Homo sapiens: one gene and its partner. The protein of the gene in region 1 binds, or shares a complex with, the protein of each later gene. Each region holds a gene or a part of one and is shown on either strand. Other genes may lie near its edges. A codon is read from its position in the direction of its gene.

Region 1 (5,270 bases):
CATCAAGTCAGATATTTTAAAAGTGGAATTTACCATGCTGAAACAAATTAAGTCATCTCTGTACTAAGAAATCAATTTGTGTGGCTGGGGGTGGGAAAGCTCGGGAAATTTTAATTTCAATGAATTTTCAGAAAATGCTTCAAAGAGAACTACCTGGCACCATAAGTAACTGTTCTAATTAGTCTAATAATTATTCTCAACTCAATCATTAATGTTCAAATGCAATTAATTATACAGATTCGAGAGATATTTCTCAGAAATGAAGAATCCAAGTCGTTGATCTAGATTTGGATTGAACGTCGAATGCCCGGTTTGTTATTTACCAAGACCCAGAAAACATCTGGCCCCAAAGCAGACATGTTTGCTTCAACAGACTAAAAGTAAAACCCGACGGTGAACCATACAGAATTCAACATACTTGGATAATGCCAGCTTAGGAAAAACTAAATTTTCTTCCACTAAGCTTAAGATGAAGGCGTGTTTAATACTTTTAATGTTATCCAGGCTTTTTATAAAGCTAACGAGATTGTCACTACCTAACCAAGACACCGAAGACTGATCTACGTAACCTTTGGAGTGGTTTAGAAGTAGGCAAAGACGAGAAATTACATTAAACATAGTGCTCAGTTCTTCCACAAAATTGTAGGTGGCTCTGAAAAGAGCCTTTGGTTCCTTTGGGATTGAGTTGCTGCAAACTAATCCAGGCTTCTACTTGCCCTTCGCCTTGTGGTGGCTCTCGGTCTTCTTGGGCAGTAGCACGGCCTGGATGTTGGGCAGGACGCCACCCTGTGCGATGGTGACTTTGCCCAGAAGCTTGTTGAGCTCCTCATCGTTGCGGATGGCCAGCTGGAGGTGACGCGGGATGATGCGAGTCTTCTTGTTGTCGCGGGCCGCGTTGCCAGCCAGCTCCAGGATCTCGGCGGTCAGGTACTCCAGCACCGCCGCCAGGTACACCGGCGCTCCAGCACCGACCCGCTCCGCATAGTTGCCTTTGCGGAGCAGGCGATGCACTCGGCCTACGGGAAACTGAAGCCCGGCCCGAGAAGAGCGGGTCTTGGCCTTGGCGCGAGCTTTGCCTCCCTGCTTGCCACGCCCAGACATGGCAAAAGGCCTATTATCTATACGGTCAAGAAAGACTGAAGTGAAACTAGAAAAACGTACATTTTATAGCCTCTACTGGGCGCGAAAAGGAAGCTGTGCGATTGGCTTACGTTTTATTTTTATTTAGACCAATAGGACTCGATTATGCAGGATACCTATTTTGATTGGGCAAAACTGGCATCTGTCGTCATCCACGGATAATTACCAATCAGCAGAGACCTTCCCACTACCTCGGCCGCATAAACTATTATATAAAAAGAGGAGACCGACTTCTTGTTTTGGTTTTGCCACTATTGTTTCATTATGCCCGAGCTGGCCAAGTCTGCTCCCGCCCCGAAGAAGGGCTCCAAGAAGGCGGTGACCAAGGCCCAGAAGAAGGATGGCAAGAAGCGCAAGCGCAGCCGCAAGGAGAGCTACTCCGTGTACGTGTACAAGGTGCTGAAGCAGGTCCACCCCGACACCGGCATCTCTTCTAAGGCCATGGGAATCATGAACTCCTTCGTCAACGACATCTTCGAGCGCATCGCAAGCGAGGCTTCCCGCCTGGCGCACTACAACAAGCGCTCGACCATCACCTCCAGGGAGATCCAGACCGCCGTGCGCCTGCTGCTTCCGGGGGAGCTGGCCAAGCACGCGGTGTCGGAGGGCACCAAGGCCGTCACCAAGTACACCAGCTCCAAGTAAATTCTCAAGCTCTTGTCCAACCCAAAGGCTCTTTTCAGAGCCACTCACTATTATCTAAAGAAGAGCTGGTTCGCTCTTCCTATCACTGGGGGGCGAGGGGTCATAAATCATTTTGATCTATCCACTAAATTAATCTAGCTCTTTGAAAGCCATTTAAGGTGAAATGTACATGAGGTACGTGCATATAGCTACCAACACCATAGAGGGTCCGACCTTTGCGCTTGAGGGCATAAACTAAGTCCTTAGCAGGGACTGCTTTGCGCTTTGCTCGTTCCGTGTAAGTCAGTCAAGCGCATCCGGGATCACGTTATCCGGAAATTCCTTGAGCATCCACGGGTTTCTAAAAAGATGAGACCAGAATGCGTTTGACACCGCCAGGCCAGGCTCCAGGTGGTGGGTCTGGTGATGTCTGGATGTTGCACAGCAACTTGCGGTGGCGCCCCCTTTACCCAATCCTTTCCCTCACTTGCGCAACCAGACATGATTTTAAGGCACGACAAAAGACCCGAGGTAAAAACCAAAAACAGCACTAGGAAAACAAGGCTGGCGTTTTTAATCTTTCCGACTAAACTGGAAACTAGAGGGGTGGGCGCGGTGGCTCATGCCTGTAATCCCAGCACTTTGGGAGGTGGAGGCGGGCGGATCCCTTGAGCCCAGGAGTTCGCAACCAGCCTGGGCAACATAGCAAAACCCCGTCTCTGCAAAAAGCACAAAAATTAGCCAGGAGTGGTGGCGCGCCCCTGTTGTCCCAGCTACTTAGGGGGCTGATGTAGGAGGATGGCTTGAGCCTGGTAGGCGGAGTTTACAGTGAGCTGAGATCGCACCACTGCACTCCAGCCTGGGTGATAAAGCCAGGCCTTGTCTCAAAAAAAAAAGTGGGAGATCAGTAAAAGTTAACACCTTGCCTTCTCCTAATTGTCAATGCCTGCTAGCAAAAGATGCCAGAGTAGATTTTTAAAAGTTTTTCTTGTTTTCACCCAAACCCAACTGTTTTTCGTATACTATTTACCATCCAATTTACTAACATTTATTAAGCATCTACTATTCACCATAGGCCAGTCATAGTATTCTGCTATAGGAATGGAAAATCCTGAATAAGCCTCCCAGACCTTAATTCTCAATCATTGCTGGTGGCCCCACAAATTGGTAGTGCTTTCATAAAGGAAAATTTGGTAATACCTGTCAAAATTTTAAAATGCACCTATCTTTACATCAGAAATTTCACCCCTAGGAATTTACTATTTTTGAAAATATGCAAAATAATATATGCAGGGGTTTCCAGCAGCACTGTTTGTAGTATAAGACTGAAGCAATTTGACTGATTAGCAATAAATTACAGTACATCATTCTATCTAGTAAAAAATAAGAAGGCTCTTTTTCATAATTATTTACTGCTTATCATGTGCCAGATAATGTCCTAAAAAGCTCTCTACATATGTTAAATCATTTAGCTTTCATAACAACTTTGTGAAAAATTACTATTTTTATACCTGTTTTACAGATCATAAAATGGGGGTTCAGAGAGCTCGAGTAAATTGCCTAAAGTGTGAAATTGTACAGTGGGAAAGTTGTCAATCAAAATGAAATCACTAATGTTAAGAAAATCCTGACACAGAGCCAAGAAAAGCCATAAAGAGAAAGTTCTCACGCTTGTATGCCTAATAACAAAAACTATCACAAAAGATGGTAAGAGCCACAACCATAAACACAGGCCATCAAAACCTTACACACACAAAAAATACTTCTACAAGACCATTTGTCCAACAACTGCCTTCCCAACCTTGGACTGGCATCGCCCTTGTTATTGTAACCCTCCTTATTTTTTTCTTTAAAAACCTTTGTCTTCCTTTACCTCCTTGAATACACATGTACTTTATAGCATATGGATTCCCATTACAATGCTTTATTCCCAAATAAATGTATTTGTCTTTAGAGAGCCTCTATGTTTGTTACTTAGGTTGGTAACAGGTAATGAGTAGTGAAAACATGATTCAAAACCAGAATCTGGTTTCAGAATCCCTATTTATAACCAGTGTATACTATACGGCTTCTCCAGGTGCTAATAATGGGATGATTTCCAAAATTTGCTGTCAAATGCAATAAAAGCAAGATACAGGATAATGTGCAGTAGAATTTTGTGTGTGTTTGTGTGTGTGTATAAATGTAAAATATTTTTGGAAGGATACTGGATAAATTGCTATCAGTGGTGGCCTCTGAGGAAAGAGAAAGTTGGATGTCCTACAGACAGGGATGGATGGAGGATCTTTTCATTGTAACTTCTTATGGTCTTTGAATTTTGAATCCTATGTGTGTATTGTCCATCCATAAAAAAAAATAGCGTAAAGAATCACTTCACTTGATTATCAGTAAAACACACATTATAAGATGATAAATGCTGCAGTAGAGATATGAATAAAAAGCCTAAGGAGCACAGAATAAATAATATTATGGGTGGGAGTGGGAAGAGTGCCAAATAGCATTCTGGGCAATAAGAAAATGGGTGTCACCTTCAAAAACGCAGAAATATTGTGGTGTGGCTAAAGTCAGGGGTAGGCAGAAGGGAGCACCCACGGGGCTGAGCAAGTAGTCTGTGACTATGCTACACCAGTGGCCTCCTTCTGTATCACGGCAGGCTTCTCAAAATGAGGACTTCAGGATAAAACAACTAGATATAATCTGAGAAGGACTTACTAAGTGAGATTCTGAAATATTTTACACATAATTCCAGATGCCAATTTAACACTATTTATTTAAATGTTACTTAAATAACATTTATTTAAATGAGCAGACTCTGAAGTTATTTGTTAATCTAGCAGTCATAGAGTTTTCTTTGTTGGTCAGACCATGTGGGAGAAAAAGCAAAAGAAAGTACTATTAGTCTCTTTTAGACTCTTACAAGTATTTGTCACCAGTTAAAAAGAGATATGTCAAATAGAGCATTGTTTTTTGTTTTGTTTTGTTTTTTTGAGACGGAGTCTCACTCTTGTTGCCCAGGCTGGAGTGCAATAGCGTGATCTGGGTTCATTGCAAGCTCCGCGGGGTTCAAGCAATTCTCCTGCCTCAGCCTCCTGAGTAGCTGTGATTACAGGCACGCCCCACCACGCCCGGCTAATTTTTGTACTTTTAGTAGAGACAGGGTTTCGTCATGTTGGCCAGGCTGGTCTTGAACTCCTGACCTCAGGTGATCTGCCCGCCTCAGCCTCCCAAAGTGCTGGGATTACAGGCGTGAGCCACGGCGCCCGGCCCAAATAGAGCATTGTTACCGTCACAATATATAACTAAATAAGCCAATGAATCAAAATTGCACACTGAATAGATATATATCTATGGGATATTCAACTGTGTCTAATATTTGGACATTTTAGAAAATGCTTTTCAAGTTAAGTGATGCTCTGCAATTATCTTAACTTACAACAAACTATTTGGTGGCAGTTTTGGATACTGGTACTACTATGATCTGAATGGTTACCCTCCAAATATTTATG
Region 2 (6,997 bases), on another chromosome or scaffold:
CGTCTCCATCCCAGCTCTGTCTCCGGTTAAGCAGTGGGGAAGGTCTCAGCTGTATTGATGCTGAAACACTTGGGCCATGCCACTGGCAAAGGACTTGAGGCCTCTAAGGGCCAAGTAGGAATCGATAGTTGACTCTTCCCCTGGCAGTTCAGCATACTGGTTGAAGAGCCAGGTTTGCAAACAGACCTGGGTTCCAATTCTAGCTCTGCACCTTCCTAGTTGTAGGAACTTAGGCAAGATAATTTTTTGAAACTTCAGCATCTTTGTGGAGATAACCAGTCTATTATTAAACTACCCTATAGTTATTGCAAGGATTACGCAAAGCTGAATGTCTAAAGGTGCTCAACACAGGGCCTGCCACTCACTCCATGCATGGGCAACAGGGGCTCTCTTTGCTGTGTCTTATGAAATGTAGCATGCACAGCAGTCAGCAACCACTTGGGCCCAATTATGTATCATCCCTGGGGCACAGAACCTCCCTTTGTATCCCCTTTGCCCTGGCAGGGGGCAAGAACAAAGAATTCTAAATTGACAGTTTATTTTCTAAGAATCAATATATTTTCTTCCTTTGAAATAAATACAAACCAGTTTGAAAGGTGGGGGAATCTATGGGAAAGAGAAGGGAAATGGGGACAGCCCCCAGTCTTTTTTTTTTTTTTTTTTAGTACCAAATGACTCTGGCGCGACCCGGAAACGCAGTTACAAATGAGAATAATTTAAATTCTCCGATAATTACAGTATTTACAACAGCAGGGGAGGGAGTCACCTAGTGCCCCTCTTCCAGGCTGGACAGATGCCCACTCACCTCACGACCGGTAGGGGCCCCAGGCCTCTAGGCAGTTATGGATTCTCCTGGCATGAGCAGGTAGAGGTGGTGGGATGGCCTGTTTTACGCAGTGTCCTAACTTTGGCCCACCACCCCGCCCTACAATGCTGTGAGGTCTCTGGAGCTTTTTCTGACCTGTGGGCCCTCCCTCTCCTTGCGCTGAACTGCCATTGGCCCTTGGAGTGTTCTGTACAGTCCAGCTGCACTTAGGGCAGGAGGGACCTCCCCCACCCAGCTTCCCCTGAGACTGGCCCCAAGACCAGAAATGAGTCAGTGCAGAGGCCGGTGCCACTCCAGGACAGTGAGCAAAGGGGAGGAGAGAAGTCACAGGGCACTATAGGTTGGGCTGTGTTGAGCAGTATCAATCACTATCGCTGGTCTCACTGCTCTGCTCGCCTTGCACCTTGCTGCGGTGCTGCAGAGCCCTGTGGTAGGCGATCTGTACTGACTTGCGGATGTTGGACTTGCGGCCCTCCAGCATCTTCTCCTTGTCTAGGTCCTGGTTCACACCCAGAGGAACCAGCTTGGTCCTGGGCAGCCACTGCCTATAGGATAAGGTGAAGATCAAATAAATCATCTCAGGGAGAACAAGGACCAGCCTTCCTCCTCTATTCACTCAAACACACCACCCAAGCACCCACTCTGGCCAGACTCTGTGATGGTCCCTGCCCTCAAAGGACTGTTCATGGTCTAGAGATGAAAGAGCCCAGTCAACAGTTATACTGTGTGGTGGCGGCGGGAGGGTAATCACAGGGTATTTATGGGTACAAAAAGGAGGCACCCTGACCTCACCAGAAATAGCTACCCTGTGCCATAGGCTCTAGGCAGACTTTACTGACATTGAATATCCTCTGCAGACAATTAACAAAAAGACTACATGTGTAAATGTGACAGAACAGGGATTCAGAGCCTGAATGTTTATGCCTGCTTTATCCTCATTTTGTCACTGTGGAGGCAGAGGTGGGAAAACTAAGTCTAGAAGCCATCTGAGTCTGGGTGGGAGCCACCTCTATATTTGTCATAAGTCTCTGATGGTCCTTTGGTTTCTAGCTATAGCTGTGTCCACTAGTGCCCACTCAGCCTCTCAGACACATGGTCGACACAACCCTTTCGCTCAAAAAACTGTTCTAAGTCCCTCCCCCACTGACTTGTGATAGCCCAGTCTGCCTGTTGCTGGAGTTTCCTGGCAGTCTGCCCCCATACCACACAGGGCTGCATCTGTGGCTGTGAGTCACACCAAATGCTCCCCTCCTTACCAGGTTCGTTTGTTGTCAAAGAAGAGGACGAGGTAGAGATGCTCTCGGGCTTCCTGGGTCATCTGCTCCCCAAGTTTCAGCACCTCCAGTGGGGGCACAGGGATGGGAACCCCATGGTGGAACATACCTTCTCGGGGCATCTTTGGATCAATGATCTGAGGATATAATAAGAGCCCAGTTTGGTTCAGTCCATGTCCTCCCAAGGCTTTTCCTCCTCAAGAACTTAGAGAGTATGTCTGAAGTGGGGACAGAGAGGGTATCATGCTACTAGAACTGCAATGCTGACCCTCAGCTTCTTTCCATGCTAAATTATTTCAGAGCCCAAGGAGCAAAGAGAAGCAAAAGGGAGAGATGGAGAAACTGAGTGGGAGCCTCTAAGTGGTACTCAAGCTGTATCTGCCCACCAGTCTACCTTACCAAGAAACTCTGTGCCCCACAGCTCAGCAGGGAGTAGGAAAAGTCTGCTAACTGTGAATCTGTATTCTGGGATTGGAAAGCAAGAAGTGTAACAGAAGCAAGCATACCAGAGCTGGGTATGATGGATAGCCTCGGCATTTGGCCCACACGAGGTCCAGAGCATCCAGCGGGGAGTCCTCATCCTCTGACAGCCAGCCAGCTCCCCGGCCCAGACTCTTCCTTACCACTTCACAGGAATGGGGGAGAGGGGGTGGATCAGCAGCTGGGGGGCTGGCGAGACCCTGACACTGGGTCCCCAGCATCCCTGGCCTTGGGCAAGGGAACTTACTGCTGTGGCCCACGCCGCGGCCAGTGCCCACGGAGTAGGCCTCATTCTCAGTGCCTGAGGTATCCTCACTGCTGTCCTCTGGGAAAGTGCCCCGAGAGAAGGAGGGTTTGCCCCGGCCTTGTTTTGAGGGCGTTGTGCTGTGGACAAGACAATGGGAGCTCAGCTCAAAGGAGGGGAAGAATGGGGAACAGCATGGTATGTGCCCTCAGCTCTTAAAGCCCGCAGGGTCTGAGACTTTTGGAAAGCAGAGGCTATATGAGGAATTTCAAATTCAAACACCCACAGGGGCTAGGCTGATGACCTAACAGAGGTGGGTTAGCCTGAGCAGTGGCGGCAGGAGTGCATACTCTAATCATCACCTTAATCCAGGATGGTTCTCTCTGTTCTATTAATGGTAACACTGATTTATTTATTTAGCAGAGAACCTTGAGTTTGAGCCATCTTAATCTAGACTGAGATGGCTGCCACCCCACTTCCAACAGGGAAACCTACACAGGCCCAAGAGCCCTGGAAGGGCATCCCCTGAGGTTGGCCTCGATCTGGAGGGCTGGTACCTGGTCCGGTCTGAAGCAGCGCTGCTACTGCTACTGCTGCTGGACTCAGAGTCTGAGCTGCTCCGGGGAAGGCTGCAGTCATTACGGTATACCAAGAAACTCTTCTTCACTGGTTGGTTTCCACCGCTGAAGCCATTGGCTGGTAAGTCTTGGTTGAAGGGAAGGGGAGGAGGGAAGGAACCGGTCAGGAAGATGTAGATCAGAGATGACATGGAGGTAAGAGGGACTTGGAGCTTGGGTTCCCCTTCTGTGCTGGAAAATTCCTCCAACCTTGGCCAGCAGAGCTAGCTCTGGGCAGTGTCTACCACAGTTGGCCACAGCCCTGCTCCACCCCTTGCTTCCCTCGGCAGTTACTGGCTTTAGGACACAAATGGCTTAAAGGGCAGGAGATCCCCAAGGAAGGTGAGAAGAGAAAAGGTAAAGTGATACAATGGAGGCAGGGGGCCCTGGATGGGACTTTAGCTGGGTCGTAGTGTCTCTGGGCCTCAGTTTTCCCAACTGTAAGATGAGTGAGTGGAGTTAAAGGATTCCTAAGGACCCTTCTAGCTCGCTCTTTTATGGGCAAATAAAGGGGTAACTGGGAGTATGCTGGGAAGAATGGCAGCTTTGCTCACTCTCTTGGGGGGCTGGGTGATGGTAAGGCTCACCCATTGGGGGGTCTTCTGTGGACTTATCACTGTCGCTGTCTGAGCTCGAACTGGGCCGGGGGCTCCTACCCCGCTTGCGCTGACGCAGGGAACTCATGATGGGGAGCTGGGGGGGCCCCACAGGACTGCCTCCGTGGCTGGGGGTCATCTGGCTCTCCCGGTTTTTGGGGGGCCGGCCCGGCCTCTTGGGCGGTCCAGCTGTCTTCGGGTTCTTTTTGGAGAACAGAACTGAGGTTCTCCTGCCCACCTCATGTGCGGGGGTTGAGGACATGTTGGGACCCAGGCCTGGAGCAGAGAAAGAAAGAAGGAGAGTTGGTGAGGGGCCTGATTTGAGAAGGGTAGATATCCAGGGTCATGCCCTGGGCATATAGGACCATTACTCCAGCTAACGTTGGGGAGATCATTTTAGGGGCTTGGAATTTGGAAGATTAACTCTTATACAAATAGCCAGAGAGGCAGCTAAGAGGCCCCTGATTGGGGAATGAGGGAGAAAGTACAGCTAGCTGTGTAGGAGGGACCTCTGCCTGGGGAATGGCAGGGGTTGAGTGTGTGCTGCAGAGCCAAAGTCTGACTTGCTTTGGGGTCCACCTTGCCATGGGATTCAGACCTTTGCTTGTCTCCTGGCTGCTGCTCTCCTCTGCCGCACTATCTGTCTGCCCATCCTTGTCACAGGCTGCCGGGTGGGGTGTCAGACTACCCCGGCTCGAGGGGCCATGCCGCTCAGGGCCATCACGTCCCGTCTCTCGCTGATGGGCAAGCTTCCGCCGCAGTGCCGTCATCTCTTTCTTGATCATCTTTGCACGCCGTGAGCGGCCCACACTCTGCTTGCTGGCATTCACTTCGTCCAGCCGCTCCAGAAGCAGCTTTAGCTGTTCTTCCACTGGCAGGTGCTTCTGGTTCTCCAGCAAGACCAGCCGCTCTTCCTCGGCTGCTAGGGGTAGGGTTGGAGGGGAAAGGTCAGACTCAGGGCAGCCCTCAGGGCCCCTTGAACCTGGGCAGGCAGCAAGAAACCCACTCATCCCCCCTGGGCTTCTCACCAGGAACAGCTGTAAAATAGCAGCACCAAGATGTGGAATGGCGGGCACTGCTATCCATTCACCCAGTCTGGCTTCTTGGGGAGCATTCCTGGGGATAGCTTGCCACTGCTCAGCCTAGCTGCTTTCTGCCTACACTGCCTGCTCCCAGGAGGGGACTTTTGGAAAGCTGTCCATCCCCGGCATTGGCCTCTTATATGTGTGTGTGATATATCACCCACCATCTTCAGTGTGGTGTGTGGCCTCATCTCCAGCCAGGCTGTGGGGGATATGCATGCCCGTCTCAAAGTCAATGCCCATTTTTTCTGCCTGGCGCCGGGCCTGGCGGAGCACAGCACCACCCTGCTCACGAAGCCGCACTGCTGCCCGGTAGAAGATGGTGTCCTTGGCGTTATACTTGAGGCAGTTGCTGACGATGAGGTTGAAGTCCTCCTCAAAATCATCAAAATTCAGGTAGCGGTAAGCCTCCAAGTTCTGCTTCATGGTGAAAAAGTCCATGGGCTTTTTGATGTGGTCTAGGTAGTCAGGTACCTGGAAGGGCAGGGCAGGTTTGTTTTAAGTGGAGATATCCTCCTTATTGCCCCGAACCCTGCTCCTAACAAGCCCCCCTGAAACACATCCAGCAACCTCCTCCCACCACAGTTAGAGGCAGGCATATAGCACAGGGGAAAGGAAAGCTGGATTCTGGTCCTGACTTTACCAGTCACAAGCTGTGTGACTTTGGCAAGTCTCTTAACCTCTCTGGGCCTACTTTTCCTCTCCTGGAAAATGATGAAAGTAGAGCCAAATATACTTTCTAGACTATATGAGGCTTTAGTAAGAAAATGGCTTGGGGACTCCTCTGAAAATAAACACCACCTTGCATTCCTACAGCTCTTTTTACTTAACAGTAACTTATAAGGAGGCTGCTGCCTCAGGCCTCTCATTTTATACCTTTTAGAGAGAAGAGTCTGCCAGTCAGGACCTAGGGCTTCAGAGCTGGTTCTTTAGGTGCTGAGCCTTCTAAAGTCTCCGTTCTAGGGTTCAGCACCCCGAAAGTGTCTTCCTGCCCTGGGATTATTCATTTGGCAGACTCAGTCCCTGCCTCTGGGGAAGGAGTGCAGACTGCCTCCCATTCTGGGCCCTTGGGGTGTGACAGGGACAAGACAGAGTCCAGGTGATACATGTGGCTCCAGTTCATCCTGCCCCAGAGCCACCAGCCCCTCTCTTCAAGGTCCCCATCTAGTCCTGGCCCAGACCTGCAGCAGGGGTCCAACTGGGAGAGGAACAGAGAGAAGGTGGAGTGAGGGGAAGGGATTCTTACTTCGTCCAATTCGGTTACCTCAGACAGAGGGACCGGCTCGCTGAAGATGTTGCCTGTGTCCTTCTCTTGGAGCTGCTCCAAGGTTTTGCGAAGGAGGATGAGGAAAGGAGTCAGCTGCATCTCCATGGCAATCTGCTGAACCTTGATCTAACATAGAAAAAGGCCTGATCAGCCAGGCCTCGGCCAGTTCAGTGGCAAAGAGGTCTGAGGATATGGTCCCAGCTGGCCTGGGAACCCGCCTTCTTTCCCACCCTCACAGCTGGGTGTACTCATACAGGTCTACCTTCTATGAGGCTCCACCCAGGGAAACTTGCACCAACAATTCTGGCTTCCCCCTTTCTTGAACTACCAGCACCAGCTACCTATGTCACATAACTGAGGATTCTGTTCATACGCTCCTGTGACATTCTGCTTCCAGCAGAACTAAAAGCACACCGAGCACCAGGAGACCTGACTCCAGCGTCAGCCCTGCTGCTATCTGGCTGGGGTACACACGCTATTCCTTCTCCTGGGTCTTTTTTTTTTTTTTTTTTTTGAGACGGAGTCTCGCTCTGTCGCCCAGGCTGGAGTACAGTGGCACGATCTTGGCTCACTGCAAACCCCTCCTCCCAGGTTCACGCCATTCTCCTGCC

Evidence for each region.
Region 2: the proteins of H2AC13 (region 1) and BRPF1 are in contact, whole or in part, in a crystal structure (PDB 4QYL), measured with the Homo sapiens proteins. Residues at the interface, in NP_003500.1 of Homo sapiens: Ser2 (codon at 1,098), Gly3 (codon at 1,095), Arg4 (codon at 1,092), Gly5 (codon at 1,089), Lys6 (codon at 1,086), Gln7 (codon at 1,083), Gly8 (codon at 1,080), Gly9 (codon at 1,077), Lys10 (codon at 1,074), Ala11 (codon at 1,071); in NP_004625.2 of Homo sapiens: Ile652, Phe653, Val657, Val662, Asp664, Tyr665, His668, Cys704, Lys706, Tyr707, Asn708, Ala709, Asp711, Thr712, Ile713, Phe714, Arg716.

What each region holds. Positions count from the first base shown.
Region 1 is NC_000006.12:27,804,041-27,809,310, reverse strand, and holds H2AC13 (histone H2A type 1), read right to left. Parts: upstream 1,139-5,270; 5' UTR 1,102-1,138; coding exon 709-1,101; 3' UTR 644-708; downstream 1-643. Other genes in the region: H2BC13 (histone H2B type 1-L), read left to right, coding at 1,405-1,785. UniProt on the Homo sapiens protein: Core component of nucleosome. Nucleosomes wrap and compact DNA into chromatin, limiting DNA accessibility to the cellular machineries which require DNA as a template.
Region 2 is NC_000003.12:9,741,540-9,748,536, reverse strand, and holds the end of BRPF1 (peregrin), read right to left. Parts: intron 6,513-6,997; coding exon 6,366-6,512; intron 6,186-6,365; exon of another isoform or gene 5,996-6,185; intron 5,594-5,995; coding exon 5,284-5,593; intron 4,960-5,283; coding exon 4,636-4,959; intron 4,314-4,635; coding exon 4,029-4,313; intron 3,530-4,028; coding exon 3,382-3,529; intron 2,965-3,381; coding exon 2,828-2,964; coding exon of another isoform or gene 2,726-2,827; coding exon 2,607-2,725; intron 2,238-2,606; coding exon 2,083-2,237; intron 1,372-2,082; coding exon 1,188-1,371; 3' UTR 522-1,187; downstream 1-521. UniProt on the Homo sapiens protein: Scaffold subunit of various histone acetyltransferase (HAT) complexes, such as the MOZ/MORF and HBO1 complexes, which have a histone H3 acetyltransferase activity.